6 linked regions of the Homo sapiens genome follow. The protein of the gene in region 6 purifies or fractionates together with the protein of the main gene of each other region. This does not show direct contact. Each region holds a gene or a part of one and is shown on either strand. Other genes may lie near its edges.

The links.
Region 1: the proteins of LSP1 (region 6) and TMOD2 purify together in Homo sapiens (affinity purification with mass spectrometry; 2 studies listed by BioGRID and IntAct, with this or other methods). This does not show direct contact.
Region 2: the proteins of LSP1 (region 6) and MYO1B purify together in Homo sapiens (affinity purification with mass spectrometry; one large-scale study listed by BioGRID and IntAct). This does not show direct contact.
Region 3: the proteins of LSP1 (region 6) and SCIN purify together in Homo sapiens (affinity purification with mass spectrometry; one large-scale study listed by BioGRID and IntAct). This does not show direct contact.
Region 4: the proteins of LSP1 (region 6) and MYO1D purify together in Homo sapiens (affinity purification with mass spectrometry; one large-scale study listed by BioGRID and IntAct). This does not show direct contact.
Region 5: the proteins of LSP1 (region 6) and TMOD1 purify together in Homo sapiens (affinity purification with mass spectrometry; one large-scale study listed by BioGRID and IntAct). This does not show direct contact.

Annotation. Positions count from the first base shown.
Region 1 is NC_000015.10:51,757,299-51,761,837, reverse strand, and holds part of TMOD2 (tropomodulin-2), read right to left. Parts: intron 1-4,539. UniProt on the Homo sapiens protein: Blocks the elongation and depolymerization of the actin filaments at the pointed end. The Tmod/TM complex contributes to the formation of the short actin protofilament, which in turn defines the geometry of the membrane skeleton.
Region 2 is NC_000002.12:191,412,105-191,416,643, reverse strand, and holds part of MYO1B (unconventional myosin-Ib), read right to left. Parts: intron 2,597-4,539; coding exon 2,464-2,596; intron 2,128-2,463; coding exon 1,975-2,127; intron 530-1,974; coding exon 402-529; intron 1-401. UniProt on the Homo sapiens protein: Motor protein that may participate in process critical to neuronal development and function such as cell migration, neurite outgrowth and vesicular transport.
Region 3 is NC_000007.14:12,568,806-12,574,144, reverse strand, and holds the start of SCIN (scinderin), read right to left. Parts: upstream 3,426-5,339; 5' UTR 3,359-3,425; coding exon 3,160-3,358; exon of another isoform or gene 2,764-3,159; intron 1-2,763. UniProt on the Homo sapiens protein: Ca(2+)-dependent actin filament-severing protein that has a regulatory function in exocytosis by affecting the organization of the microfilament network underneath the plasma membrane.
Region 4 is NC_000017.11:32,866,801-32,871,339, forward strand, and holds part of MYO1D (unconventional myosin-Id), read right to left. Parts: intron 1-4,539. UniProt on the Homo sapiens protein: Unconventional myosin that functions as actin-based motor protein with ATPase activity. Plays a role in endosomal protein trafficking, and especially in the transfer of cargo proteins from early to recycling endosomes.
Region 5 is NC_000009.12:97,499,895-97,504,911, reverse strand, and holds the start of TMOD1 (tropomodulin-1), read right to left. Parts: upstream 3,247-5,017; 5' UTR 3,109-3,246; intron 1-3,108. UniProt on the Homo sapiens protein: Blocks the elongation and depolymerization of the actin filaments at the pointed end. The Tmod/TM complex contributes to the formation of the short actin protofilament, which in turn defines the geometry of the membrane skeleton.
Region 6 is NC_000011.10:1,851,663-1,856,922, reverse strand, and holds the start of LSP1 (lymphocyte-specific protein 1), read right to left. Parts: upstream 3,840-5,260; 5' UTR 3,779-3,839; coding exon 3,726-3,778; intron 1-3,725. UniProt on the Homo sapiens protein: May play a role in mediating neutrophil activation and chemotaxis.

The sequences.
Region 1 (4,539 bases), on a different chromosome or scaffold from region 6:
TATATTTTGATTGCCAGCCTTTTTTTCTTAGTGATACATAAAATACTGGAGAGTTTTACAATCAATGGTATCTTAGAGTTTATAAGATTCTATTTGAATTTTTTTTTTTTTTTAAAGACAGGGTCTCATTCTGTTGCCCAGGCTGGCTTGATCATAGCTAACTGCAGCCTCCAATTCCTGGGCTCAAATGATCTTCCTGCTTCAGTCCCTCGAGTAGCTGGGTCTACAGGTGTGTATCACCATGCCCAGCTAATTAAATTTTTTTTTCTTTTTTGCAGAGATGAGGTCTTACTATATTGCCCAGGCTGGTCTTGAATTCCTGGGCTCAAGCAATCCTCCTGCCTCAGCCTCCCAAAGTGCTGGAATTACAGGCATGAGCCACAGTGCCCAGCCTCTATTTGGATTTCTATTGCTGGATTCTCTAACTAAACCTAAACTCCCAATTTTTCTCTAAACAGAGTTGCCGTCTAGATTAATCTACCAGTCAGACACTCCCAACACTCAGACCAGCTTCAGACTCTCCCACTTTTTTTTCTGAGTCCAGCCGGTCAGCACCTCCTGCAGGTCCTTATTGCACAACATTTTTCACACCACCCCTTCTTTTCACTCTTGTTTCAGCCTTTTGTTCCTTCATACCTGCACTACTCTGATTGCATCTTGAAAGATTTCTGTTTTTCCCTGTAAGCTACCCAGAACACTATAATTGGATCATTTTTCTCAACACTGCTAACAAGCCACTTCCCTGGTTAAGAACTTACAATGGCTCCCTCTTGTCCACAGAATGAAATCCAGACAATCTAGCTCCAAAGCTCCCATGATTTGGCTTTAACCTGCACTTCCTGTTTTCTCTCTCGTTACTTTCCTGGGGAGCCCACTTCGGCTAAAATGGCTTATTTGCTCTCTGTGGTAGGCAGAATCATGGCCACCTAAATACGTCCTCCTCCTATTCCTCACATCTATATGTTACTTTACATGGCAAAACAAATGAGTTGTGATTAGATTAAGGATTAAGGATTTTTTTTTCTTTTTTTGAGACAGAGTTTTGCTGTTGTTGCCCAGGCTGGAGTGCAATGGCACGACCTCGGCTCACTGCAACCTCTACCTCCCGGGTTCAAGCAATTCTCCTGCCTCAGCCTCCAGAGTAGCTGCGATTACAGGCATGCACCACCATACCCAGCTAATTTTTTGTATTTTTAGTAGAGATGGGGTTTCACCATGTTGCCCAGGCTGGTCTTGAGCACCTGATCTCAAGTGATCCACTCACTTCGGCCTCCCAAAGTGCTGAGATTATAGGCGTGAGCCACCACGCCCAGCCCAGATTAAGGATTTAAAAATAGAAAGACCATTTTGGATGATCTGGGTGTGCCAATGTAATCCAAAGGACTCTTAAAAGATGGAAGAGGAAGGCAGAAGAGTCAGTGTCATGCAATTTTTTTGCTTTGAAGATGGTGGAAGGGGCCATGAGCCAAGGGATGTGGGCAGCCTCTGGAGGCTGGGAAGGGCAAGGACATGGATTCTCCCCTAGGGCCTTCAGAAAGGAATACAGTCCTGTGACACCTTGATTTTAGCCCAGTGACATGTGTTTCAGACTTCTAACTTCCACAAAAGTAAGAATAAGTTTGTATTGTTTTAAGCCACTGGATTTATGCTAATTTGTTACAGCAGCAATAGGGAATGAACACACCCTCTTACCCAAATACTTCCATTTTCCAGGATGATTGTTCTGGCTGTCTTCTGTTTGCACCTCCACATCCACTCCCCTGCTGCTCTGTGCTCCAGGAAGATGATCTATTTAGACTGTATCAATGGGTTCCCTTTCTGTCTGGCTTCTGTTTGGCCCACAGGGGGCACTAGCAGGAAACTGGAGAGCAGGGGAGGGGGAGATTGGGTCCAGAAGGTCACATCTCCCAAGAGGCAGCCCTCTCCATACAGCTGCCTGCCCCTGGCTGGCCTCAGGCCTTGGGTGGTAAGGGTTCCTTGTGCAGCTGGTGCCAGAGTTCTGCCTTGTTGGATTCCCTAAATCCTCCCCCCATCTTTGTAAATAGCCTCTTTATTAAATTTTTCTCAAGTTACTCGAGTGTATCCCGTTTCTTGTTGGGATGCTGGCTGATACATTAATATTACTTGGAATGCTGTTCTCTATTCTCATGGCCTATCTATGCGCTCTGCTCTTGAGACCTGGCTCAGATCCCAGTTCTGCAGGACCACAGAATGTCAGAGCTGAAAGAGTCCTTAAAGATTGCTCAATCCAGCAACATAGATGGTTTTTCTTCTATTTCTCTGACCATTTCTTTTTGGTCTCTTTTAGCAATTCTTCTTCCTCCACCTTAAATACTGGCATTCTTCAAGGTCTCATCTTATAAATTCTTCTATTTCCATACTACATATTCTCTCTGGAGGAACTCATCTGCCTCCAAAATTTTAATTATAATATATATCCAGGAGATTCCAAAATCTGTATCTTCATCCTAGACTTTTTTCCTGAGGGTTAGGCCCCTATATTTCCATCTGCCTAATTCACATCTCTCCTTGGCTGCCTCAGACACCTCAAATATGTCAGAAGTGCTCTCATCATCTTTCCTCCTCCAGAATCTCCCATTTCAGGAAATTGGCCGAAAAACCAGGGAGCCATCCTTAACATCTTCTCTCTCTCGTCTCTTTTCCAGCCATCAATCACCAAATCCTGTCCTTACCTAAACGTGTTGAGAATCCACCCACTTCACTCATCTGCATTGTCCACATTCAACCCTATCCCTTCCTGATCCATTCGCCATACAAATGGCCAAAGTGAGCACAGAGTTAAACAACTCTTCTCTAGTTACTTAAAATCCTCCAGTGGCTTCTGCTGCCTTGAGGATAAGGTTCAAATTCAGTCTGTCTTCTGTCATCTTCGTCAGCCTCATCCTGTGCTGCACTCCCCATCTCCTCCTGGCTCCAGCCTCCTGGCCCAATTCCAATGCCTGGATCATGCCTTATGTTGTTCTCTCTGCTCAGAACACTCTCACCCCACTCCCCTCTGGCTGACTGCTATCCTACTCATCCCCTGGTCTCATGCAAGCTTCACTTCTTCAGGGAAGCCTTGTTTGGACCTGGAGACAAGGTCTGGGTCACTCCCCATCTCCATGCTACCCCTTTAATCACATCTGTTCTTGGCTTTATTACAACTACTTGCTTTATCTCTATTTTCCTTGCTAATCTCTGTGAGGGAGGGGGACTGTATGAGTTTTATTCACTGATAAAATCCTGACTCCCAGCACAGTTCTTGATCTGAAGTAGGTATCCAATAAATATTGTGTAACAAATGTCATGTGAAAGAAATGAGTTCAAATGAACCCGCAGGTCCAGAGCTCATTCCACTCTATCCACTGCTTCCTCTCCCTGTGATGGAGCTTTCTGAGATCATCTAAGCCCACAGAAGTTGCCCCTTCCTCTAAATTTGTATGCCTACATCACCAATTTGACATATCTTGCTATCTTTTCATGTATGTTGCATGTATGGTTCTCTCTCCAGCTACACTACAAACTCCCAGAAAATAAGTGCCATGTCATACTTCAGTAGGAAAATACATTAATTAATTAAAATAACATGTTCATACTATGTAACAGTAGCTGTTAAAACAAATTGCCTATGTTGTGTCAATGTACCAGGGGATCTCAAAGTCAGAGGAGAAAAAAAAAACTTGCATCCTCCTGGAGCACAACTTTGATCTGAAGATTTGGGGAAAAGCTAGTTATTATTATTATTATTATTATTATTAGAAATAGGGTCTCACTCTGTTCCCCAGGCTGGAGTGCAATGATGTGATCATAGCTCACTGCAGCCTTGTACTCCTGAGCTTAAGTGAACCTCTTGCCTCAGTATTCCCCCCACCTCCTTTGACCCCAGCTGAGACTACAGGTATGTCCCACTATACTCAGCTAGTTTTTAAATTTTTTGTAGAGACAGGGTCTCGCTACATTGCCCAGGCTGTATTTTTAAAAAGCAAATATAGAAATACTGTGGAGAAGAATGCAGTATTCTCATAGCTTTTAAAGTCAAATCAAAGCTTTTCCAGCTCATGGCTGGTCTGCTTTTGCCCCCACCAAGGCTGCCCAAGGGCTCCCATTTGTCTTCCGTCCTGTTAGCAATGCTGCCGTGGGAAGTTAGCAAGCACTGCTACAGCCTCCCCTCCAGTGGTGTGTCTGTCCCATGGCAAGCATTTAACATGCAATATGATGCTAATGTACATGCTGGAGTGAAGCAAATGCCTAACAAGGCTTCCAGGAGTCCTGGTGGGCAAGTACAGGAGCCAGTTAGGAAAACAGAAAATAGGATTAAAGACTTGAGCTGATGGAAGCATGACTTGGGCCCTTAAATAACTCTTCCTATTATCCAAATATACAAGCCTTGGGAAGGAAAATAAGGAGTATGGCTTTTTTTTTTTTTTTTTTTTTTTGAGACGGAGTCTGGCTGTGTCGCCCAGGCTGGAGTGCAGTGGTGCGATCTCCGTTCACTGCAAGCTCTGCCTCCCGGGTTCACGCCATTCTCCTGCCTCAGCC
Region 2 (4,539 bases), on a different chromosome or scaffold from region 6:
AGACGGTTTCACCATGTTGGCCAGGCTGGTCTCGAACTCCTGACCTCGTGATTCGCCTGCCTCGGCCTCCCAAAGTGCTGGGATTACAGGCGTGAGCCACTGCGCCTGGCCTACTCTCTGACTCTTAACCCTTTTTTTCCTCCATAAACACTTGTTAGCCAAAATCTTATCAACTATTTCATCATTTTATTTGTACATACTGGTCTCTTCCACTAGGATGTCAGGTACATGAGGTTGGAGACTTGGTCAGTGTCATTCACTGCCCATTTATCATGTGGAACAACTACTAGACACATACCTGGTACTTAATAAGTAGTTGTATTAATGAATGAGATCGAGAGCTGAACTAAAACAAAAAAGCTGAAAGAGAAAAAGGGTTTTCAAACAATACATGAACGTACTCATCGGAAATCTCAATATTGAGCTTCTGTTTGGTTTGGCTGAGAGTTGTGCGATAGAGCTTGGTGGCCATTTCAATCAGGTGATCACTGCTGAAGAGAAAGTCTCCTTTACTAGCTGCTTCTGAGCCCTGCAAGGACAAACCAAGAGTCGGTCATAATTAAAGATACCTTAGAAGGTCAATATTTACAGGCTTGGCTAAAAACATACTTACAGTCTCTTTAAAACATCAGATCCTGGAATCCATTCTCCCAAGGTAAACAATAATGACAAAAGCAGTGTTTCTTCCAACTTGCTCAGAGCACTTTAGTAAGGTTACCTAATCCCCTTCTACCTAAAGTCGGTGGATGCAGCAGAAGCACCATGTGCATCACTTGGAGCTTGCTAGAAAAGCAGAATCTCAGGCCCTACCACAGCCCCAGTGAATATGAAACCACAACGCAACCTCCAGGTATGGGTTTACACATTCAGGTTTGAGGAGCATGGACCTATCCCGCAACTCTTCTGAAGGACTTGATTAAAAAACTTTTCAGTGATTTGGTTAAAACCCTAATGACAACACTTCCAACAAATATCCTAGGGCAGTGGCTCTCAGCCTTAGCTGTGCAAGGGAATCATCTGGGTTTATTCAAAAAAAAAACAAAACAAAACAAAAAAAAAAACATGATGCTTGTGCCCCCTCTGAGAAATTCTAATTTGATTTCATAGGGGTATGGCCTGGGCATCAGAATTTTTAAAGTTCCCAAGCTGTTTACATGTGTCACTGAGGTTGAGAATCACTGTCCTAGTATTTGATATGCCCCCTTTAAGTTAAGATCCAAAGTAGGGTAAACAGGCTAAGGGAAGCTTTGGGGATTTTTCTAAGTTTAGGGTTGGCCAGAGAGTAACATTATTAGCTAGACACATGTCCCTACATATGATCAATATTTGTTAACTTTTGTTTATTCAGTGACTATGTGTTATGTGACAGGCCCTGTTCCTCCAGTGTCTCATTTAATCCTTAATCCTTACAACAATGCTATGAAGTAGGCACTCTTACTATCCCCATTTTAAAGATGAGAAAAAGTAGGTAGGCACACACAAATTAAATGCCTTGGCCAAAATTATCATAAAGTGAGTGAGACCAACTCCAGAACCTACATGTAACCACTGCATCCAAGCCAGGAGTCCTGGTTAAGCTAAAGGCACAGAACACTAAAAATTATTTAGGTTAAAATTAACTGGCGGTTATTTTATTTTAGTTGTATCCTTTAATGTAAACCCCCAGATTAGAGATGAACATTAAGACATTTACTAAGTTGATACATAGAAGAAAAAACAGGAGAAAACAAAATTTAAAACATCTTGATATTTCTATGTATTAGTCTCAAAAAGTAAAGTAAACTGGCCAATAAAAGTGATTAACTTTATTCAATTACTGAAAAACTGAGTCGGAGATTTTACATAGGGGTGAATATCCAAAATTTGCAAATTAGCAAGGCAGATATATAAACTGCGATAGGATTATCAGATATGGAAATTTTTTAAATCAATGGCTGAGAGATTAAGCACAGAAATCTTCTGTTGAACCTTTACCTCTTTGAGGTGGACGGCGAAGAAGCCATCATTTTGTGAGCTCATTGATACCTTGGTCACATCCACCAATGGAACCTCTGACTTGATTTGTCCAGACTTTTGGTCAGCAAGAAGGAGATTATTGTTTGTTAAGAGGAAAATCCGAGATGTACTCTAAATCAAAATAAAAAATAGTATAAAACCAATGATCACAAATACTCAAAAATGGTCCATGAGTTTAAGGCATTATTTGCAAAAATTCCAATATCCTTCAACAAACATACCTATGTAAACCAAGAACGCAGTAAAGAACATAAATAATATGTTTTATTTCATAAAAATGTCAGAGAACAAGCAAAATTCCACCTAAGCTTAAAGGTAAGGGGAAATAGCCGCCTTCATAGTTAACTCTACTGAGAACATGAAATGCAAATTTTTACATTCAGAAAACAGGGTGACTATCCCAACTAATAGGTACTTCTTATCAGTCTTCAAGGTTAGCATTTTTACCTTCCCATTAGCACGGTTAATTTTGTTCACGACTTCAGCAATGATGATCTTTTCTTCAATGGCATCTTTGAGTTTCTTATACTTGGGGTTCTTGTTGATTTCCAGGTAAGCCCCTTGGAATGGTTGCCCAACACTAAAGGAAAAAAATTCCTGCACATTAGAAATAGTTTCAAATGAAAGTACCACTAAAAAAAGGAAACAGGTCAGTTGATTCTAAGGAGTAGCTGACAACTTCATAAAAATTGATTTCAATTTATTTTATATATTACACTTACATCTGTCCTAAATATAAGTTGGAAATGAAACCTTAAACCTATTTCAAATACACTTTTGGGGTGATCATGGCATTTGGTGGGCAGGACTTTGATAATAATCTTATCACACGGAACAATCAAGACAGAAATCACTCATAAGAACAACAGCTAAGACTCAAGTACATGGCCTCATGTGAAGGAAAAGGCAATTTCTTCTAATCTGTTAATATAAAGTTAACAGCTGCTCACAAAGGATTTACTAACGCCTTCAAACAATATGTGGCAGTGAAAAGAGCTGAAATCATTACCATCACCTGCTCTAAAGAAAAATTTCATTTCTTGCAGAGAATAAGAAAATCAATAGGCCTTCTGGGAAAGAACAGATCCAGGGCAATCACTTTAGAAGAAAACTATAGAACACTTAATATTAACATGTAACTGTGGTTCTAAGTAGGCAATACAGATGGTCTCTGACTTGGTTTGACTTAGGGTTTTTCAGCTTTACAGTGGTGCTCATAAACCATTCTGTTTTTCACTTTCAGTACAGTGGTCAATAAACCACATGAGATATCCAACACTTTATTATAAAACAGGCTTTGTGTTAGATGATTTTGCCCAACTGTAGGCTAATGTAAGTGTGCTGAGCATGTTTAAGGTAGGCTAGGCTAAGTGATTGTGTTCAGTAGGTTAGGTGTATTAAATGCATTTTCAACTTATGATATTTTCAACTTCATATGACATATGACAACTTCATAAAAATTGACTTCAATTTATTTTATACATTACGCTTGCATCTGTCCTAAATATAAGTTGGAAATGAAACCTTAAACCTATTTCAAATATATTTTTGAGGTGATCATGGCATTTGGTGGGCAGGACTTTGATAATAATCTCATCACATGGAACAATCAAGATAGAAATCACTCATAACCCATATGATGGATTATCTGTGTGTAACTGCATCATAAGTTAAGCAGCATCTGTATATGAAAGGAGAATCAAGCCTCTTCTCCTAGAATATGCCTCTAAATGGACAGAAGTAACCAAAGCAAACATTCAGAATCAGGGCAATTTTTTTTTTCCCAAACAAACTAATTTTTGTAAAAGGTTAACTGTACACTTATCACTAAGATATCAATTTCCCTAAAGACTTGTCGGGGGACTCTTTCAGGACAGGTTCATCAAAGGCACCAAGGAAAAACTGCTGCTTCAAGGAATCTATAAGCTTCATTTTGAGCTACAAAGTTCTGGCAATTTGCAAATACAAATTTAAATGCTTATGTTGTGGGTGGAGGATAAGGGAAGAAAAATCCACGTAGGTGGTCAGCGTTTCACAGCTCTCAGGATATAAAAGGCCAACTCCCATAAGAGCTGCCACTTTGCAGGGTGGTGGGAGGCTAAATTATTCCACCTCTCTCACTGCTGTGGGGTGAGTGTGCCACTATCCCTGAAAACTGATAAGACTACCCAAAAAGGACTTGGCTTGAAGTTAACTTTTTTTGGTTCCTATTCAACTGTGTTTTAAATTATAAAAATGCTAACAGGCTTTTAAATTGTTTCCTCAAAGATGTATTTTCCAGCCTGTAGTTTCTGAAGAGTCATCCACAGGAAATGTTCATTAAGAAGGTTATTCCCTAATTTAAAAATGTATAAAAAAAAAGCTGAATAAAATTAGTTGCTGAAGCAAGCATACAGACAAATTCTCCTGTTTGAATATGCTTTATATAACAGGCACTTTGGACAACTTTGGATTTAGACACTGTGTTTGACTTAAGGGAGTATGTATCACCTCAAGTAGCCACATCAGCTAACCAATGAAGTT
Region 3 (5,339 bases), on a different chromosome or scaffold from region 6:
GGGCTGATTCTAGTGTTTGTTTATTCAAATAAAACTGCTGTGGACATTCAGGTACAGGTTTTCATGTGAATACAAAACTTCATTTTTCTGGAATAAATACCTATGAATGCAATTGCTGACTCATATGGTAGTAGTATATTTGGTTTTGTAAGAAACTACTAAACTCTTTTCCAGAGTGCTGTACCATTGCATGTACCCACCCCCATGCTCCAGCAATGTAAATGATCCAGTTTCTAGCCAGTCCTTCGTATAAGTTCTTTGTATCGTATATTGTAATCCAATCCTTTGGATTCCCAGGGCATTGCACAAGGCCTGGTATAGCCCACTTATAACATAAATGTATACTGCTTTAAAATATATTTGTGTGAAGTTTAAAACTGGCAAAGAGAAAGAGTGAGGATAAGTGTTTGTACCTTAGGTTAGGGATGTGACAGGGAGCAGTTTTACTATCTAGACCTACCCATTGATTTGGTGCTATAAGGAACTACAAACAGAGGTGAATGGATGCATTTAAACTGCTAGGTGCAAAGCTGAAATGTTTTTAAAGAAGGGCTAATGCAATAACATTTAAGTTCTTTGCAATAAATTTTTACTTTCATTACATTTAAGCATATGATGTTAATACATTCAAGCATGTAATGTTAATACAATAAAATAATCTGAGATATGCCAAGTGTTATGGAAACACTGAGGGAGAGACCAAGAAAGACGACTCTCCTGCTCTGTTCTCTCTTGTTCTAGGTCCAACTTCTTCCTGTTTCCCCTTTTTGCCTCCCATTTGGCCTGTTTCTTCATTTCTATGCTATGCACCTTTTTTCATCTCAGTTTAACTTTAGTTTCTCTTTCTTCCGGCTGATTTCCTTTAACCAAATGTTCTTTTCCCCTGGAAGTTCAGCTCTCTCTCCTGTGACTTTCTCTCAATCTGTCTCTCTGATGAATCCTCATGGATTCATCCTAATTTAGGTCTTAGACTACACTATTTTGGATGAAATTCTGTTTTCTTAGGGAACTGAAGTAGGAAGAGCTGTTGGGCAATCCCATCTGAAAGTCCTGTTGACTATTTTACTTGAAGCTTTTTTTCTCTCCATAATTCTCTCTTGACACAAGAACACTTCCAAGTACTCTCATTTTTTTTTTCTCTAAAGGCTTCTGTTTCCCAATAACCACAGAAACTTTGTGCTTTCACAGTAATTATCACATTCTACCTGTGTTATATCACTTTTTGTCTTTTTGCACCTTTGAGGTGATGAACTTTTAGAGAAGTTTCATTAATTATTCATATCCACAAGTGCCTTGTACAGTACTGGCCATATTGAATAATTACTGAATGAATTTGCTTGTTATTAACATGTTATTGACTTCAGTTTTAGCATGTCTTTAAGATTATAAATGTTTCTGCCCAAACCATTTTCTATTATATTTTTGAAATTTATGGGCATCAAGTGGATAATTAAGTAGATAATTAAGTGAATAAGGTGAATCTGTAAACCCTACAAAATATAGTAGTTAAGAGGACAACTTGGATAAAAATGTATAGAATTAAAGAATTGTGTTCAAATCTCCCTTGCGGTCATCTGACAAAGTCAAACTTAACTGCTGTCTACAGTAAGATATGGCATTATTTCACATTTTAATTTACTCAAATGGCAAATGTGGCATTTCAAACACTTTCATTCATGCTAGATTTAAGTTCTGCATGGAAAGTCCTCTGTAAGGACATCATTATTCTATCTGGCATCATTCATTCTTGAACATGGGTTATAAAAGTTTCAGTCTTTTCTGGCAGAAAATACAAATAGATGACTGTGTATTACAACATTATAATAGGAATAACAGCAATGCATCAAGAAGCCAAAATGTGTTCAGAACTCAGGCTGAGCCTTCTCTGCCTCCTCAAGCTAACACAAATTTTTGACTCCAAATGTTATAATTAAAAGTCTTATCTTCATCTACGTATTTTTCATTTCTCATTTCTCAAATGCCTGTTCCAGGTGTTTGCCAATGTTTAGACAGTCACTACTCAATGTTTTCTATTATTTTGTTTCTTAAAATCTTCAAATGTTGGAAATTACAGTGTTGGCTTTCAGGGACTCAAAAATGTGTAAGTGTGTGTGGTTTTGTGTGTTTTCCTCCTAAGCTCAGGGATAAAACTAAACAAACACGAGTACTGGGCAGGCTAGCTAGTTTTAAAAGAAGGCAAAAAGGCTCAGAGAATCGGCATGTTGTTAGACAGGGTGTGCCCACTGGCACAAGACCTCCTGGGGAGAGGCTGGACATTCAGGATGTTTATGAGTAAAAGTAGAAGGTGGAAAAAGAACACACAAGGCCCAGTGTCCTGACAGCCTGGCACGAACGCAGCTCAAAATAATTACTACTGCTGAAGGAGCCGTTTCTGTTCCATCTTGTGTCCTTGCTAAAATAAATAATAAATAATAACAATAAAGCAGTCTACATAAATATATGAAATACCCATATAGAGCTATTTATTTGTATATAAAATATCTGTATTTTTTTCTTACTTCTATCTGAGGACGCCAGCTTCCGAATGAAGCGGAGTTTTTGTCTACCAGACCCACAAGCAGCATGGTGCGGGTAGAATCCTGTTTTAAAGAAGCCCAGAACAATAATTCCCGCAATCATAGAGAAAATAAGCCAGTGCCCGAAAGCAACAAATAAAAATAATGTGTGAAGAAAAAGAAAAGGACTTCTTCCTAGCGGCGGCAGATGCCCCCAGACTTTATGACTTCCTCTCCATCCCGACAGGGAAAGCAGGACTGAGTTTGTCGGAAGGTGAGCGGGGCTTGGCCAGAGACGGTGTGCGCTGAGGCAGCGGCCCTGGACAAGAGTGGCGTTTGGATACTTGACGGTGAAAGGGGAAGAAGCCAGTCACCAGCTCCAAAGTCCAGGAACTACACCTGGCAAAGGTCAAAGCCTGCGAGGTAAGTCAATTGCGGACAACGCCTGAGCCCCGCGTTTGCAGCCGGCGAGTTGACTTCGGTAGGGAGAAAGTGGCCGGCCCCAAAGGGCAGCCCCGTGGGGGCGCGAGTGGCTAGCTCAGTTTGCGGTCCCCTTTACTCCCACGCCTGCAAATCTCAGACCCCTACGCCCTCCCCTCGCCGGCCTTGGTGCGTCGGGGTCCCGCCGCCCGCCGTCCCTTACCGAGCCAGAAGTGCAGGTGGTAGGTGAAGCCTCGGCTCGTCTTGGCCGTGTGCAGCACCAGGTAGGCATCCCCGACGTAGAAGTCGCCGTGAGCGCTCTGGGGCACGGGCACCAGCTCCAGCTTCTCAATCCTCCAGACCTGCAGCCCCGCCTGCTTGCCCGCCCGGGCGAACTCTTCGTGGTATAGCTCCCGCGCCATGGCTCCTGCACGCGATGCTCCGGGGGACGCGTGATATCGCTGATCTTGGACTAAACCGAGAGCAGCAGGAGGAACCTTATTCGCCGCCACTTTATAGTGTTTGCCATCCGGGGAGGCGGCGCCCTGAAACGGGAGGGGCTAAGTGCCCAGGCGCGAGTTGACAGAGGAGACGATCGCTTCCCACGGGGAGCGCAGCGCTGGCTTCCAAGCTCCCACGCCTTGCCCCAGGCCAGGAGCGGAATCGGCGTCCCAGAAGTCTTGAGATTCAGAGGGAGTTTATAGTAACTCGTGCCAATGCCTCCTCCAAGGAAAGACATTTTCTCTAGCAATAGACGAAGAACATTAACGGTTAAAACTGCTTGGCACTCCTTTGTGCATACCCATCACTACCGTCCTGCATATTTCCCCTTCTCTCGCTAATCCTCTTATTTCTGGATCTCAGTTGTGCCTGGCAGGAGGGGTGAGGTGAGGAAAGAGCGCGCCAGCCCTGCAGAGTTGAGTCAGCGTTTACTCGGGTGGAGCAATACCTGTTCTTTCTGGCCCTCTAGAATAATTCTTAGAACAAGGCTTCCTCTGCTAATAGCAACACCTGCCGTTAGGCAGCAGAGGAGTGTGCCACATTAGCATGCTGGAATAATTTTAATACATCCTTCTTTAAAAAATGGGCTTTTTGAGTAACAAGCATCCTAATGATCAATTCTGTCATTTCATTGGGCAATCTCTGCATTCCTGACGACCAAAGTTTCTGTCTCGATCTTCCAGTTTGAAAATACCATGAAAAACAGCATGTCAGATTTCTTGGACAGGAAGAAAACCTGGAAGAATGGCAGTATTACCCCAGGTGACAGAGCTCTGTAAATCTCAGAGTTCAGGAGCTGTGGTTGAGCTCTCTTAACACCTGCTTCCTTTGGCCAAGAAAGATGAAAACAACAACAAAAACCCAGCAGCCGCCGTCCTGAGATGTTCTCTGCAGGGCTGTTTGTGGCTGTAATTTTATGCTTGGCCGGACTTCTGGGTTACCTGTTACCTAGCTTCAAGGTGATAATTTTCTTTGTTTTACCTACAGGTTTTGCTTTTGCAGCATGGCTAAAACACTATGGAATACAGATGGAAATTTTACTCTTGATTTGGCATTCATTTAACAAGCTGGTATAGCAAAGGATTCTGTTACTGAAAAAGGCAAATCACTCAGGATGTATAGAGTAAGAAAGCTGAATTTCATGCATGTAAAATTGTTTTCATTCAATTTCTCAAATTACATGAATCCCTGGAAGGTCAATAATAATGCAAAATTAGATTTTTTTCCTTAATTAAATTATGTTTTTAATAGGTTATTACATGACCATGGTAAAAAAATTAAAAGTACAAAATGTGTGCAATAAAAAATTATCTCCATTTCACCCTGCCACCCAGTTGCTTTCCCCAAAGGCAATTACGTTACCAGTTTCTTATGTATTTTTCCAGGCACTCAAATTTTGTCAACAAGAATATAGGTAATGTAGTTATTTTAAATTTTTAACAGAAAATGTAACATATAACCTTTTCGAATCCCCCCCCGTGTGTGTGTGTGTGTGTGTGTGTGTGTGTGTGTGTGTGTGTGTGTCTGTGTATCAACACACAGTACTCATAGAGCTACCGGTTTTTACTGACCATATGGTATTCCACTTTATAAACATACTAATTTATTTTGTCTATCTCAGTTCATAGTGTAGGGGCCAAGGGAAAACTTCCCCTCTACCCTCTGAAGTTTCACTGAAAAATCAAGTCACAAAAGGCAGATTAACAGGACAAATGGCATACAAATTTATCAGCGGGCATGGGGGAGAATCACAGAGTGATTGGCCAATATCCCAATGAGGTACAGAGGGTTGTACCTCCTTATTAGAGGAAAGGCAGATGGGTGATGTATGGGTGATTTGGGGGGTTAGAAAATGATTTTTAGGGGAATTCAATGTGTTTGAAGAACATACAGTGGCCTGAG
Region 4 (4,539 bases), on a different chromosome or scaffold from region 6:
AAGAAAAGAAGGCCAGGATGGCTCAGGCCACAGGGCAGGGGGAGGAAGGACTGTTTCCAAATGAAAGACTATCTCTACTTCAACAAGGGTCTGCTGACATTCTACCTCTTCCATAGGGCATTTTTTACCTACTCCCAATGCCATTTTTTCTTTTTCTGAATTCCCTCATAATATAGTACATACATATAGACAGCTCTTAATTATATTGTCATCAGTTCTCTTTTCTAAAAATATGATATATTGATTCCTTCTCTGTAGGAAGCCCTTAAAAGAATGGATTGTCTTGGGAGGCCAAGGCGGGTGAATCATGAGGTCAGGAGTTTGAGACCAGCCTGGCCAACATGGTGAAATCCCATCTCTACTAAAAATACAAAAATGAGCTGGATGTGGTGGCAGGTGCCTGTAATCCCAGCTACTCGGGAGGCTGAGGCAGGAGAATTGCTTGAACCCAGGAGGCGGAAGTTGCAGTCAGCTGAGATCACGCCACTGCACTTCAGCCCAGGTGATAGTGTGAGACTGTCTCAAAAAAAAAAAAAAAAAGAATTGTCTGTGCTATTCATTTGAGCTCAATCATATTTCACTTTATATTGATCCATTTATTAAGGTATCTCTTACTCCCAATTAAGCTATCCCTCAAAGAGTAACTTTATTAAAAGTAACCCCCACCAAAGTACCCAACCCAGCACTAAGCACACTGTAAGAATTCAAGTAGTTGGCCGGGTACAGTGACCCACGCCTGTAATCCCAGCACTTTGGGAGGACAAAGCGGGCAGATCACCTGAGGTCAGGAGTTCGAGACCAGCCTGGCCAACATGGTGAAACCCTGTCGCTACTAAAAATGCAAAAATCAGCTGGGCATGGTGGCAGGCGCCTGTAATCCCAGCTACTCAGGAGGCTGAGGTAGGAGAACTGCTTGAACCCAGGAGATGGAGGTTGCAGTGAGCCGAGAGATCATGCCACTGCACTCCAGCCTGGGCGACAGAGCAAGACTCCGTCTCAAAAAAAAAAAAAAAAAAAAAAAAAGAATTCAAGTAGTTGCTAGCTTTAATACCAGGAGATTATATGAAAAACATATAGGGTCTATAGATAATGAGGAAATTGGTTATAGATTTAAAAAAAAAACAAAAAAAAAACTCTAGACTTAAAGTCTATTACCTAGCAATAGTGCCTAGATGTTACAAACCTTCACGGAGGCTGAGAACAGTGACATGCAGAATAAAATAGTTTAGAAATCTCTTAAATATGAATATATTTCATTTTCCAAAGAGTCTAAAACGATTTCTAGAAATTAAATAGTGATACCTGGAGGGAATGTGATTATGAGAATGCATAGGGTGATAGTTACAGAGTGAATTGGGAATAGCAAGGGCATTTTTGGTTCACAGGGCTGGACCAGGGAATGGAGCAGAGACAGAGGGGTACCCACTGAGTATCTACTATGCTTCAGCCACCACCATAGGTATTTGACACATATTTTAAATGTGCTATAATTTCACAAGAACACATCATCTTTATAGATGAAAAAACTGAGGCTCAAAGAAGCTAAGTCACTTGTCCAAAGTCACACAGGTGGTAGTAAAGGAACAAAGACAAGATTAAGGTCCAGATTTGTCTATTTCGTGTTCTTGCACTCTCTGCTAGGTAATCTGAATTCCCTAGTTTGCGCCATTGCAAACTTTCATCCTTGCCCCCCAAACAAAATCAAAACAAACAAAAAAGACAAAACTTTGTCTTAGTGAGGGAGGAAGAAATGACAAGGAAGAGATGAAAATATCTAGCTCTCTAGCAGTTATGGGGTCAGGGTAGGGAGGTGAGGCCATTCGGGAAGGATTCAGGAAGAGTTAGCATTAGTTGAGTGAGAATTATATACCAGGCACTTGCTGAACATGTGATTTCATCTCAATAACCCTAAAAGGCGATCATTTTACATATAAGGAAATGAGGCTTAGGGAAGCCTATGGTAAGAGAAGTATGCTCAGCTGAAGCTGAGATTTGAACTTGGTCATTTACGTCTCAGAGCCTGTGCTCTTTCCATGATTCCCTATTGGAAGCATACTTTTGATTCTCTTTTCCCACAAATGCTCAAAACTAAAGTTTGGAAAACATTGTTCTATTCAAGAGATCTTGGCTGGGTTCGGTGGCTCATGCCTGTAATCTCAAAACTTTGGGAGGCTGAGGCGGGCGGATCACTTGAGCTCAGGAGTTTGAGACCAGCCTGACCAACATAGCAAAACCCCATCTCTACTAAAAATACAAAAAAAAAAAAAAATTAGCTGGGAGTGGTGGTACGTGCCTGTAATCCCAGCCACTAGGGAGGCTGAGGCATGAGAATCGCTTGAACCTGGGATGCAGAGGATGCAGTGAGCCAAGATCGCACTACCGCACTCCAGCCTGGGCAACAGAGCGAGGCCCTGTCTCAAAAAAAAAAAGAGATCTAGCCAGTAATTACATTGCAGTTGAACTGAAAGAAGCCTGCTTCCTACAGGAAATAAAACTGTCATCCAAATCAAGGCATCTAATAAATGATAAAGGAGAGACATACAATGCATATTTTAAAATGCTGTTACCCTCTGACCCCATTATGAATATAGTTGGCATTTTTATAGGCCATGTCGGTGAGGCTCATGAACAGGTAATCTACCCAGCGGAGCTGGAGCCACTGCTGACAGTAAAGTTCCCCGACTTAGCAGTGGCTGGGCAATAATACAATGACCCAAACCAGTTCCAGTGGCAGCACCACAAATGGGTACTAGAGAATTATCATTAAATGAGGTCACTCCTAGAGATAGTGTCCATTTTGCTTAGCTGACTCACACTTAGGTGAGAATGTCAACGAACAGCTCTCCACATAGAGCTAATATGGAGATCACTAAATAAACACATTTCTAGCTATATCAGATTCAACATTTTTGTCTCAAAGTTAAGCAAAAAGCCAAAGTGTATCTCTTTAATGTAAAAGTAGTTCCCAAATAAAAAAAAAAAATTAGCCAGGCTTGGTGGTGTGCGCCTGTAGTCCCAGCTACTCAGGAGGCTGAAGTAGGAGGGTTGCTTGAGCTGGGGAAGTCAAGGCTGCAGTGAATCATGATTGTGCCATTGCACTCCAGCCTGGGTGACAGAGTGAGACCTCGTCTAAAAAAAAGAAAAAAGAAAAGTAGATCCCATCAGAACCTGCAATGAAATGAACCAGTAGCAACTTCTAAGTGCTTGATTCCACCCACATCTGGCTCTATTTGGGAACTAAATTCAGCAGAAGTCTCCAGGGTCAAGAAATGACCCTGAATAAAAATAGTCTCGGAAATCTGTCACGGAGTAGGAAAGGAAACCAGGCGGCAGGGTGATTCACTCCAAATGGCAGCTCCAAAACCCAAATTCCCATTTTTGTCCCAATATGAAGCCAATGTACAAAACAGGCAGAGAGCAAACTGTCCTTTTCCAAAGGCCTTCAAAAGAGGTTGCCAAAGAATTTCACATGGAAGCCAAAAAGATTTAGTGTGCCATTCACCTCTCCTATAAATCTAACTAGAGCTATTTCTAACTAGAGCCCTGAACCAATGGCAGGTTTACATTTACTTGAAGACCACCCAGGGTATCTATGGGTTTTTTTCCCTGGCAAGCAAGAGACACCCTTTGTCCCACCAAATTTTCCAAATGACCAAACAGCCACAGAGAAAGAATACAGGGGTGGTGTGGTGAGTATGTGTGTGTCTGTTTCCTGCCTTTCTTCTAATCTATAACTCACTGCCCCAACACACAGTTAAGTTCTATTAAAGTACAGTATTTTGAGAAGATTGTCTGCTAAAAAAAAAAAAAAAGAAAGAAAAAAAAGAAATAATTCCATTGGTTGAAGACCAATCAGCCAACATTTGAGTACTCAGTTAATTCATTTTAAGATGTATTAAACATGGGGAAGGGCAAATTCTGTAGCATCACAGAAAACGCAAAAGGATTAAAGGTAGGTTTGCTTCACAGCCACTCACTTGCACCTTCCCCTTCCAAAGCCTTGCATTTTATTCTGCATTCATGATTTACATTCTTTTTCTTAAAGGTGGTTGCCCCCAAGCATTATGAGGTTCAAAGCACCAGAAAACCTGGATCTACCTCTGAACAGGCTATCTGCCTTTGAGGATTCCATAGGTTGGTGAGGAATATGAATATGATAAATTCTCTGTTATGAATAAATGTCCATGTATCCTGAGAGCACATGAGAATGTGACATTGACCTGTTTTGGGGGATTGGGAAAGATTTCTCACATCTGGTCTTGAAGGATGAGTAAGAGTATGGCAGGCAGGGAATGAGGGCAGAGATGAGGAAAGGAGGACATTCCAGGGGGTGAAAACAGCAAGAGCCAGTGGCTCTCAGCTAGGGATAATATTGCATGCATGTGAGCACAAAGACACCCACCCACACACAACCCCCCCAGGGACTTGTGGCAATGTCTAGAGACATTTTTGGTTGTCATAAATGAAAGAGGAGTGGAGTTGTTGACATCTAGTGAGTAGAGGCCAGGGATGCTTCTAAACATCCTACGACACACAGGA
Region 5 (5,017 bases), on a different chromosome or scaffold from region 6:
ATTTATCTGGTGTTCTGGCTTTAAGGGAAAAGTAAACTGGCCTCTTTAGAAATGTTGGCAGCCTGGCTGGTCCATTAGTAAGACTGAAAAGTCAAAACATTGACTGGAAAAGGCCATTACGACCGGGCTCAGCAGGAGTCATCGATAGATGATGTCATTTCAGAAATAAATAAGCCAAGGTTATGAGGCCCCAGAGCAGGGTCAAAACACTCTTCACAGCCCATCACCATCCTCCATCGCAGATACTGGTCTGCCAGAGACATAGGGGTCTGAGCCAGGATCTGCTTCGTTTTACCTTTTTTTGCTCATTCCAGGGGATGAAGGCCACCTGCAGAGTCTGTGACATTCTGCAAGTCACTAAGGAAGGTCCCCAATCCTCATTATGGGCACACCTTTTAGATTCCCCTTTAACTCTCTCCCCTCTCCTGGGTTCTTCTCACTACTTGCCATACTCTTTATCCTAGAATGCCTGCCTCCCTTCTGTTCCTTGTCCTCAGTTCCTGCTACCTTCCCTCTCCCTTCCTTTCTCATCCAAGCTTTTAGAAAGAGTTGCTGGCTCTGTTGAGAGCCTTCTTCAGCCTACAGCCTGAAGAAGTGGAGAACTTCTTCAGCTCCTGTTAGCTCCTGCCTTTCCCCCTCACCACAACGAATACTATCATTGCAATATCAGGCTCTGGGCTGAGGGCTTGCCCTGAATCATCTCACTTAATTCTCACAAGCAGCCCCTATGAAATGGGGCTATTGTTGTCTCCATTGTATGAGGAGAAAACGAGGCTCAGACAGGCTGGGTCACTGGCAGATCTCATTTTTTGAGCCTGCTGCAATACCCTGGTCTAAGTCACTCATGATCCCTGCCAATCCTGATGGTCTTTTCCCAGTCCTCATCCCCCTACTCCTGTCTCTCCACAGCAAGTGACACTGCCCACCTCTGTCCTCCCTTGGCACCTGGGAAAGCCACTGTCTCTCACTCCTTCCCCAGCTCCTCCTTACAGGATGGGTCATGCTAGAAAGGCTTCCAAGGAAGACTCTAAGCCCTCTCCACTCCAGGTCCACTAGAGACCACCTTGTCTGCCCCCTCATTGCTCAAGGTTCCTCTGAGTGGGTGGCAGAGTTGGGGCTGGAGCCAGATATCCTAACCTCCAGGCCAGTCCACCTCCCATTGCTCAGAGCTGCCACACCTACTTTGTGTTTTCTGTTTTTGCTGAGCTGCAAGAAAACGCCCTACCCTGAAGGAGGGAGAAGGTGTGAGACCCTGATAAGGTGGGGCGGAGGCTATTTTTAGAGGACACTGGCTTTCATCTTAGGCTGGGAGAAACTCAAGGGTCAATGACTCTCTAAAACACGGGTTTGTAAGACTAGCTCATTAAAGATAATACACCAAAGTGACAGTATTCTTGTTTTCACTCTGCCTGTTGGTTGTGTGGCTCTAACTGATGGAAACTTTATTATCTGACTCCATTTCCCGTTAATTCTTTTTTCTGTAAGTCTTTGAGATGGCTTTAGAAAAAAACACATAACAGAAAGTAAAGTAGAAGCAAAAAGGAAACTTCAGGATGAGGGCGCTATTGTCCAGACAAGGTAAAGTCCAGAACAGCAGCAGATTCAAGAAGAGGGGGCATTGATCGGGTGCTCCCAGAGCTCCCGGACCTGCCTGAGCAGTGGGAAGGGTGCGGAAAGAGATGGGAAAGGCTGGGAGACTGCAGAACTTCTGGCGTGACCGGCCCTGTGTGACCTTGAGCAGGGGGCTCTGCGGCCCTGCACAGAGGACAAAATGGCAGTCACCTCTGGAAGAAAGATGGGGTGGGGGCCCTAGGGGTTCTCACGCTGAGGGCCCAGCACCTGGGTTCAGGGTCTGGTTCTGCGATTCAGACACGGAGGAGCTTGGGCCAGGTCGTCTCCGAGAGTCTGAGGGCATAGGGCGAGGGCTGGAGACAGGGTCTGTAATAGTAGCGGTGGGTGAAGGGTGTAGGAGGGGGCGGCGCTGCGCAGGTTGGAGGACGCATCATAGGCCCGATATAGACCGGGAAACTGTGGCCAGGGAGCGGCTGTACTGGAACCACTGCCCCTGCCCAGCTCATCGCATCTGAAGCTGCGTGGCTCACAGGCTGCTTTGCCGGCTACGGAGCAGAGAGATGCCCATAGGCACCCCAAAAGTGCACTTCCTAGGGTTGTACGGCTTAGGATATCCGACGGCCTTAGTGAGTCCCAGGATACGATCGAGTCTGGGGCAGTCAGTCTCCGATTTCTGCAGCGTCTCCGCATGTGCGCGGCTGGGACCCCAGCGTCCCAGGCCCGGAGAGGGTGAACAGGTGTGGGGAGCGCAGGCGGCCAAGAGCGCGCCCTGCAGCTCTCAGGGCTTGGGCTCCCAGCTCCATCGCGGCTACCAAACCTCGCCCCTACAAATGGGAGACTGAGATCCAGAAACAAGAGGGGGATTGCCAAGGCCATGCCGAGAGCCGGCGACAACCTGGGGCTCCCGCCTCCAAGCTCTTTCCAGCTCCACTTGGCCGCGTAGCGCGTGTCGTGGTGCTTTAAACCTTGTCTCTCCCAGTTTGGGAAACTTCACCTGCCCCAAACACTCTCAGCGCGAACCTGGGATCCACGTCCAGTCGAGCCTTTACTCCCCCACTCCCACCCCCAGACTCTTGCAGGCGGAGAAGAGGCCGCGCCCCCGAGCCCAGCTCCGGCTGGCACCTGTACCCAGCTGAGCACCCCGCGGGCTCAGAGCCCCGCCGCGCTGGAGTCCTGCGGGTGGCGGGGGCGCCCCTCCGCCAGGACCCCAGCCCGGGGCGCCGTCTCCTCCAGAACCCCGGGTCCTTCTCGCGTTCACAGACGCGGTGCGGAGGTCCAGAGCGGAGGGCGCCCTGGCCAGGGCTGCGCGCGCGGGGAGGCGGGGACGGGAGCGCTGGGCTCGGAACCCCGAGACCCGGGCTCCCTAGCCCCAGAGGCAACCCGAGGCGGCAGCTATTTATAGAGGGAGCCACGCTCAGTCCCTCTTGGCGGCGGCGGCGACAGCTGAATATTTTGCCCAGATATGGCTGAGGCCCCGGAGCGGGGGCAGGGAGCCCCGCGAGCGCGAGGGGGACCCCAGGCGGGGTGGGGGCTTACCCGGACGCAGAGCTGTGGGGCCGGCGCGGACGCGGGCTGCGGAACAGGCGCGGGCGGCGGGCAGATGGACGCGGGCGGAGGCCGCGGTGCTCCGGCGGGCAGCGGGCGGGCGAGCGCAGCGCGGGGCTGGACGAGCTCCCGGGCGGCCGCGGGCGGGCGGGAGCTGTGGGCTCGGGGGTGGGAGCCAGGGGCGGGCCCGGCTCGGCTGTCACCGCGCCCCGCCCCGCCCGCCGCCGGCTCCCTCCTTCCCCCCCCCTCCACTCGGGGGCGCCCGGGCGCAGCGCACTTCCCCGTCGGGACGCGGCCCTGGGCCGGGAGCGCAGGGGAGTCGGGCTGCAGCCGAGCGAGCGCGGGCCCCTGCCTGGGTCTCCTCCGCTTCCCCGCTGGTACCAGGAAGAGTTTGAGCGACGGTAGAGTTATGTGGGAAAAGGTGGGCAGATTTGCATTCCTGTGGGGTTTAGAATTTAAGATTTTGAGAATCTGAAGTCCCCAGAAGTGATGGACCAAAGCCAGCTAAGCAGCTGCTGCACCTTCACCTCTGATTGAAGCGCCGCTCCGTCCGTTTCCCAGCAGCGCGGCCAGGTGGGCTCTGAGCCGCAAGCTTTAACCGCGATCGTTTTGTCTACACGTAGTTCCAACACGCAATCGAATACATTCTCTCTACACTGAGAGCGAGTGGAGTGTCTAAAATACTGATTTTAAATGACCACAACAAAAAGACCCAAGTTCTTAAAAGGCTTTTTTTTTTTTTTTTTTTTTTCAGAACAAACCACTTTAGGTGGTTTATTCCAAATACAATTTTAAGTGTTTTAATAAACAAATGTCTCATGCAAAGGAATTTATATAGAAATAGGAAAACGTCTTATTTTGGATTATTATGGGAAAGCTTTTGGTAGGGTAGACCTTAATAAAATCAGCTCTTAATCCTGATGTATAGATTATTAATGAGAAACACTCATTAACCAAATTTTGTTTCTCAAGAAAATGAATTTCTCTAAAGTCCTCACAATGAGAACGCTCTTTTCAAGGGGTATATGCCATACATTTAAAAATAAGCAGTGATCTAATATTTCAGATTATTTTAAAACATTTTTGTTGTGAATCGAACATATAAGAACATACAACATAAGTTATGTTGTATGTGTAAACAAAATAAATGTGCAGCTTCATGACTTTTTACAACGTGAACACCTGTGCAACCAGTCACTCAGAGAACATTGCCTACAGCCCAGAAGCCAACCTGTCCCTCCTGGGTCCCAACTCCCTTCTAAAGATGATCACTTTCTTGACCCTTACGGTGATCATGTCCTTGTTTTTTTTCTTCCCTCTGTAGTATGTCTTCATTTGTTCAAATCTGTTGTTAATCTGTGGTTTTATGCAGCTGTAGTTTTTCACTGTATGAATATGCCACAGTTTAAAAAAAAATCCATTTGACTATTAATGGGCATTTAGGTTGTTTCCAGGTTTTAGCTATTACAAATAGTGCTGCTGCGAACATTCCTTGCCAGAATCCTCCTGTCCACGCGCACAGCCTGCTGTTGGAAGTGCTGGGTGATAGAGAAAGCCTAACCTCAACTTCGGCAGAGATAAGCCTGAACTCTTCCAAAGTTATAGTACCATTGTACAGTGCAGTTTCCCATCTTCAACAACACTTGAAGTTACAAAAATTGAAACACTTTAGAAATTCTGATATGTGAGTAATGGTATCTCATTGAGGTTCAAACTTGCATTTCCCTATATCCTAATGTGTTGAGTATCACTTCATATTTATTGGCCAGTTGGATTTGTTTTGTGAATTGTTCAGATTTATTGTCCATTTTTCTTCTGGATAGTCCTGTGTATTGAATAGATTCAATGGTGTGTGTATCCTCAGTTATATTCCACTCTTTTGCCTTTTCACCTTATTAAC
Region 6 (5,260 bases):
GAGGTGGCTTCCCCAACTGTCCCCAGCTCTGCCCTCTTTCCTGAGCAGTCGTGGGCACCGCTGGGGGCTCTCAGGGCCACCTGCCCCAGCGTGGAGCATTGCACATCCTCCAGGTGGTGCCTGGCCTTGGCTCGGAGGGCAGGTGGGCGGGAGGGCTGCCCAAGGGCCTGGCTGCCTGGGGGGTTCCATCCCATGGGCTCCTGCTGCTCAGATGAAGACTTCCAGGGGGCTGCCGGGGGCCTCCAGCCCCTTCCTCCTTCAGAATCTGGAGCTCTGAGGGTCTCCAGGGACAGATGGCCAGAAGGAACCCTGCCAGAGCAGCCCCTCAGGTCATCCCTGCCCTTCCCAACTCAGCTCAGCACACAGAGAAGCGAGGGAGGCTCCGATGGGCCAGGCGGGGCTCCAGGACTGGCCCTGTCCATGGCAGGTGCTGCCAGAGCCCTGGGCAGCGGCCTCCCACCGCGGGCTGGGCAGGCCTTTGAAGGTCTGCAGAGGAGCAGGGCGGTTGGGTGATGCTAGGAGGGGCATGTGCCAGGGCTCTGACACCTTCCAAAACTGGGAAGAGCTGGGAAAGCTGGTGGGATGGGAAGTGAGTTCAACCAGGCCAGGAGGGCCTGGCATGGCCACCCAGGGGCATGGAGTTTGCCTGTAGCTGGTGAATGGTTCTTTCCGTGGGAGACACGGCCTGGTCGCTCATGGGGAACAGACTGGGGGTAGGGTCATCCTGATGGGGGCCTGGGCTACACAGGGGCAGACTGAGAGGGCAGCCAGGGTGTCTGTGGGACAGGGTGGCGGCAGGCAGACTTGCCTTCTAGGTGTGGACATGGGGTGGGCACGCCTGGGCGGGTGGGCACCCCCGGGCAGCTGGGCCAAGGACAGGCACTGCAGCCAAAAATGCAGTGTGACCCCAGGGAGGGTACACCCCTGCAGAGCTGGGCTCCAACATCTGGATATGTCGAACCCAAGGTCTGAGAGGGCAACCTGACCCTCCCCAGCTGTGGACCAGGACGCCCCGTCCTCATCGCCTCAAGGCCTCCAAGGCCAGATAGTTCCTCAGTGTGGGGAGAGCCTTGCTCTTGGGGGCTATAGAGGGCAGGCATCCCCCAGCGTCACCAGAGAGTCCCCCCAGAGCCACAAGGCAGCTCTGTGAAATCCTCGTCCCTGCCCCCAAGGGACAAGGACAAGCTAGTGACTGTCTGCTGGACAGCGGGGCGAGACAGGAGTGCCCCCGAGTGGAGGAACCGCAGTCCAGCCTGGCTGGTAGCCGAAGCGGAGCCTGGACCCCGCCCAGGGTCAGGGGACCTTCTTTGGCCTGAGGCCTCGTGGGAGAGGACAGTCCTGTCCTGGGGGCATCTGAGAGACCACATCATGGAGGGGTGGTTCTGAGGAATCTGGCCCCGTCCCGGGCAGTCTGAGGGGAGGGGCCACATCATGCGACAGTCTGAGGGGCTGGACCCACTTGTCCAGCTGGAGGGGCTTGGCCTGCCCTGGACCTAGTGTTGAGGGCATGTCCTGAGACCGTCACAGGCTGGCGTACCTGGCACTCTGTGACATGCACGGGGGGCTGTCTTGTCCACTGCTCCAGCCCCAGCTGAGCCTGCCCAGCCTGGGCCTTCCTGGGGACTCCCGTGTGGGGGCTTCCCAGGCCATACATCCCTGCCTGGGTGCAGGGGACTTCTGTCCCATCCTAGACAGGAAACTCCCCGGTTCCCTTAGTCACCTTGTGAAATGAGAAGCCTACCCCACTGGGGCTCTCAGTTTCATTCTGAAAGGTCAGGCTTGGCTGCGCACCCCATGCAATTCGCGGGGGCAGGGGATGTCCAAGGAGGGGGTCCAGGCTTTGCAGAGCCCAGGAGAACCGCCGCTCTCCAGCTGGAGCGCCTGACAGCCCCGGCACAGGTGCAGCCCTGGCCTCCCAGGATCTGCACCAAGATGCCCCAGGATCATCTGTGCCTTGGCCATGCCCGCTCCAACCCCCCCTCCCCGCTCCTGGCCCGGGGGATCCAGGGCATTTGAGACAGCTGGGAGGGGGTGGCCAAGGATGAGGCCAAGGAGGAAGGCGGGGGTGCCCCAGCCCAGAGGCTCATGTCCTGCCCTTCTATGGGCATGAGGTGACCAGGAGCAGCACCTAGTCCAGGGCTGGGGGTGGTGCTGACAGGAGGGCCCGTTTTGCAGCTGGGACACAGCTGTTGTGCACCCAGAAGCCTGTCTCCCTGCACACGGCCTGGGCAGGGCATCCTCCCACCTCTCCCTGGGGACAGGCACGGACGTCCCGACCCAGCCCTCAGCCAGCCCCGGCCTCTGCTTAGCCTCCACTCCACTCACGGCACTCGGGGTCCCTTCAGTGGCCCCCCGCACCTGTACCCAAGTGGGATTTGGCAGCAAGAAGTCAGAGATGCAGACCCCTCACACATACCAGACCCACAGCAATGTGACGGCCACCAAGGACACAGACACAGGACAGTGACTGCAGCCACCAACAGCACAGGAGCTTTGTGTGAAGGCCGGGAGGTGGTCCCTGCACCGCCCCGGGTCGGGTAGACCGGGACCCTCTGCTGTCAGCACCAAGGCAGAGACTGGTAGCAGCCCTGGCTGCAGTTTTGGGGTATGTGAGCGTCACCCTGGGCCTCCTCTCAGGTCCGTCCTGTGTGGCTGCGGGCATCACACTCTTTCTGCAACCTGGGCCCCAGCGCCTTCCCTTCCGCACACCAGGCCACAGCCCCCGCTGACCTGCTCCTAGGCCGGCCTCTATCCCCAGCACCGGATCCCCATCCCCTGACCATTAGCACGTCGCCCCTCTGCCCCTCAAAGCCCTACCTGTCCCTGCACCGCACGCCCTGAGCCCTCCCATCTCTTCTGGGACCTGCACCGGGGGCAACTCGGGTTCCCCTGGCGAGGCTCAGCTGTGATGCCTGGATGCCTGCTGGCCGGCAGCTCCCCTCTGCCAGGGAGCCCAGTTACTAAGCCGCTAGCCCTCTCCACCCACCCCAGCACAGGGCTGGATGCCCATTGGTACCACAGAGTACAGCTGCCCGCTAGGAGGCCTTTGGCAGCGGGGTTTTTCTGCCCAGCTCTGGCAGTCCTACACACAACCTCTGCCATGCCCCCTCATGTCCCCACTCCAACCAACACACGGTGCCTGGCACCCAGCACAGGCACCTGCCAGAATCCTTGGCCTTGTCCTTTACCGCAGGTCAAGGGCAGCTTTGGGTGCCCTGCCCTGAGGCCTGCTGGGCCCCAAGCCTGGCGGCCTCCAGACCCTCAAGGCAGGATAGCCCCTCTCAGATAGTCCTGTGGGCAGGTGGCCAGGCCCGGGCCAGTTCCACCCATCCCAGAACAGCTGCTCCCCAGCCCCCACCTTGCCTCTTCCCAAGCTAACAGGGCCCACAGTCCCCAGCTCCTCCCTGGCAGTCCAGGACACGTCTTGGGGTCTCCTCGCTTCAGGCATCCACCATGGGCTTAGGATCCCACGCGCCTCCCCCAGTGAGTCCAGGGCACAGAGGCAGGCGGAAGAGACCTCCACCCTTGTTGTGAGAGGGGGGTCCCAGCAAGACTTCCTGCCACCTGTCTGTGGGTCCCCAGTTTCCCCATCGGACATCCAAGTTCTCCCATTGGGGGCCCCAGATTCCCCATCAGGCACCTCAGTTCTCCACCCTCCATGCAGCTCAAGGACTATGCACCCGTGGACACGGCACAGGGCGCCGGGCGTCGCCGCAGACCCTTACCCCAGCAACTCTTCCCGCTCCTCGGCACCCGGGTCACTCGAAGCCTCCGCCATCAGCCTGTAGTCTGGGCCCCACAGGGTGCTGGCAGATCCCTGGAGTGGGTGTACGTGCTGTGGCTTTCAGTGCTTTCTGGGGCGGCTTCTGAGCCCCCACCCCCAGCCGAGTTTCACTTCCCCCTTCCGGCTGCAGGTTGAGGTTTGGAACCTGTCTCGGCTTGGGTCAGGGTGTTGTTTTTTAATCTGTTGCTACAAGAGGAGAGGAAGAAAAAAAAAAAAACCCAAACCACCCCTCAGGAAGCGTTAAGCAAGTTACAGGGGCCTGGGGTGACAGAGACGGGGTGCGAGGGCCAAGATGGCCGCAGGCAGCTCTTCATGGCTCGGGGAGGGGGACCCATGTTACCCCTGGTCCCCGCTAGTAGCTCTGGCCATCAGGTCCACCTGTGAGTGGCCAGTTCTCCTGCAGCATCAGGGACAAACACGTCTGTGATCCCATAAGCACCACGTGAGCGTTTTAGCTTCTTTGGGTGAAATCTACCCAGAGGCCGGCTCTCCTACAGGTGCTCATGGAACTTGGTGGAGTCTTTTCTCGAAGCCTGGGGTCATAGCCTTGAGCACATCAAACAGCTGTGGGTCCCAGGTGGCTTTGGGGGCTGTGCCCGGGATGCCCCTGCGTTCTACCCGTCGGGTGCCTTGTTCTGTCTTGGACTGCCTTGCTGATGCCGAGCTGTCGGGCATCCGCCTCGTCCCCCCGCTGCCCCTTGCTCTCCGTGCTCTGGTCGCTGGAGTTGACCACCGAGTGGTTCGTGTCCCCAGGCTCTAAAGGCAGTGCCTCAGGGACCCTCCCAAGAGGCATAGGCCAGCCCGAGGGGAGGGATGGAGGCTGTTTCCAGCCCTCACTGTCCCCAGCTTCTGGGAGTGACCACGCAGTGGCTCCAGGGTCAGGAGGAGGGATGCATGACTGCAGGAGCCAGACCCCAAAAGCTGAGGCAGGGGAGGACTTAAGCTGGGCCAGAGTAGGGCAGCCACAGAGGTGGCGAAGGCTTCCCTGCTGGAAACCTCAGCGCAGGAGAATGGGAGAAGGGAGCCCTGGCCAGCGGCTGGGCCTGAGAAATCCAACCAGCAAGGACTTACAGGGGGTCCCAAGGCAAAGAGGGGCTGGAGAGAGGCCAGGGGTTGGGAGGGCCCTGGGCCCAGAGTGTTGACCCATCAGGGTGGGGCCGAACCGGAGGCCGCCTCCTTGGGACTCAGCGAGCCCCCCACCCACCAAACACACCACAAAGACCAGCAGAGGCTTTCAGAGCCCCACGAGTGGAGGCACCAGAGGGATCCGTGGCCCAGACGATGGGCAGGGCTAAAACCAGATCAGGCCCAGCGCCATGGAGATGAACAGGCCATGCCTGTGTCTTCCCCACGCCTCCTCCCTGGGGGTCCCTAAGGGCCCCCAAGTCCCCCTTGCAGAGTGGCACATGGCAGAGCCCTGCGGTTCTCACCATGCGGCCTCCATCCTGAGGCCATCCTGAAACGGCTCCCCTCATG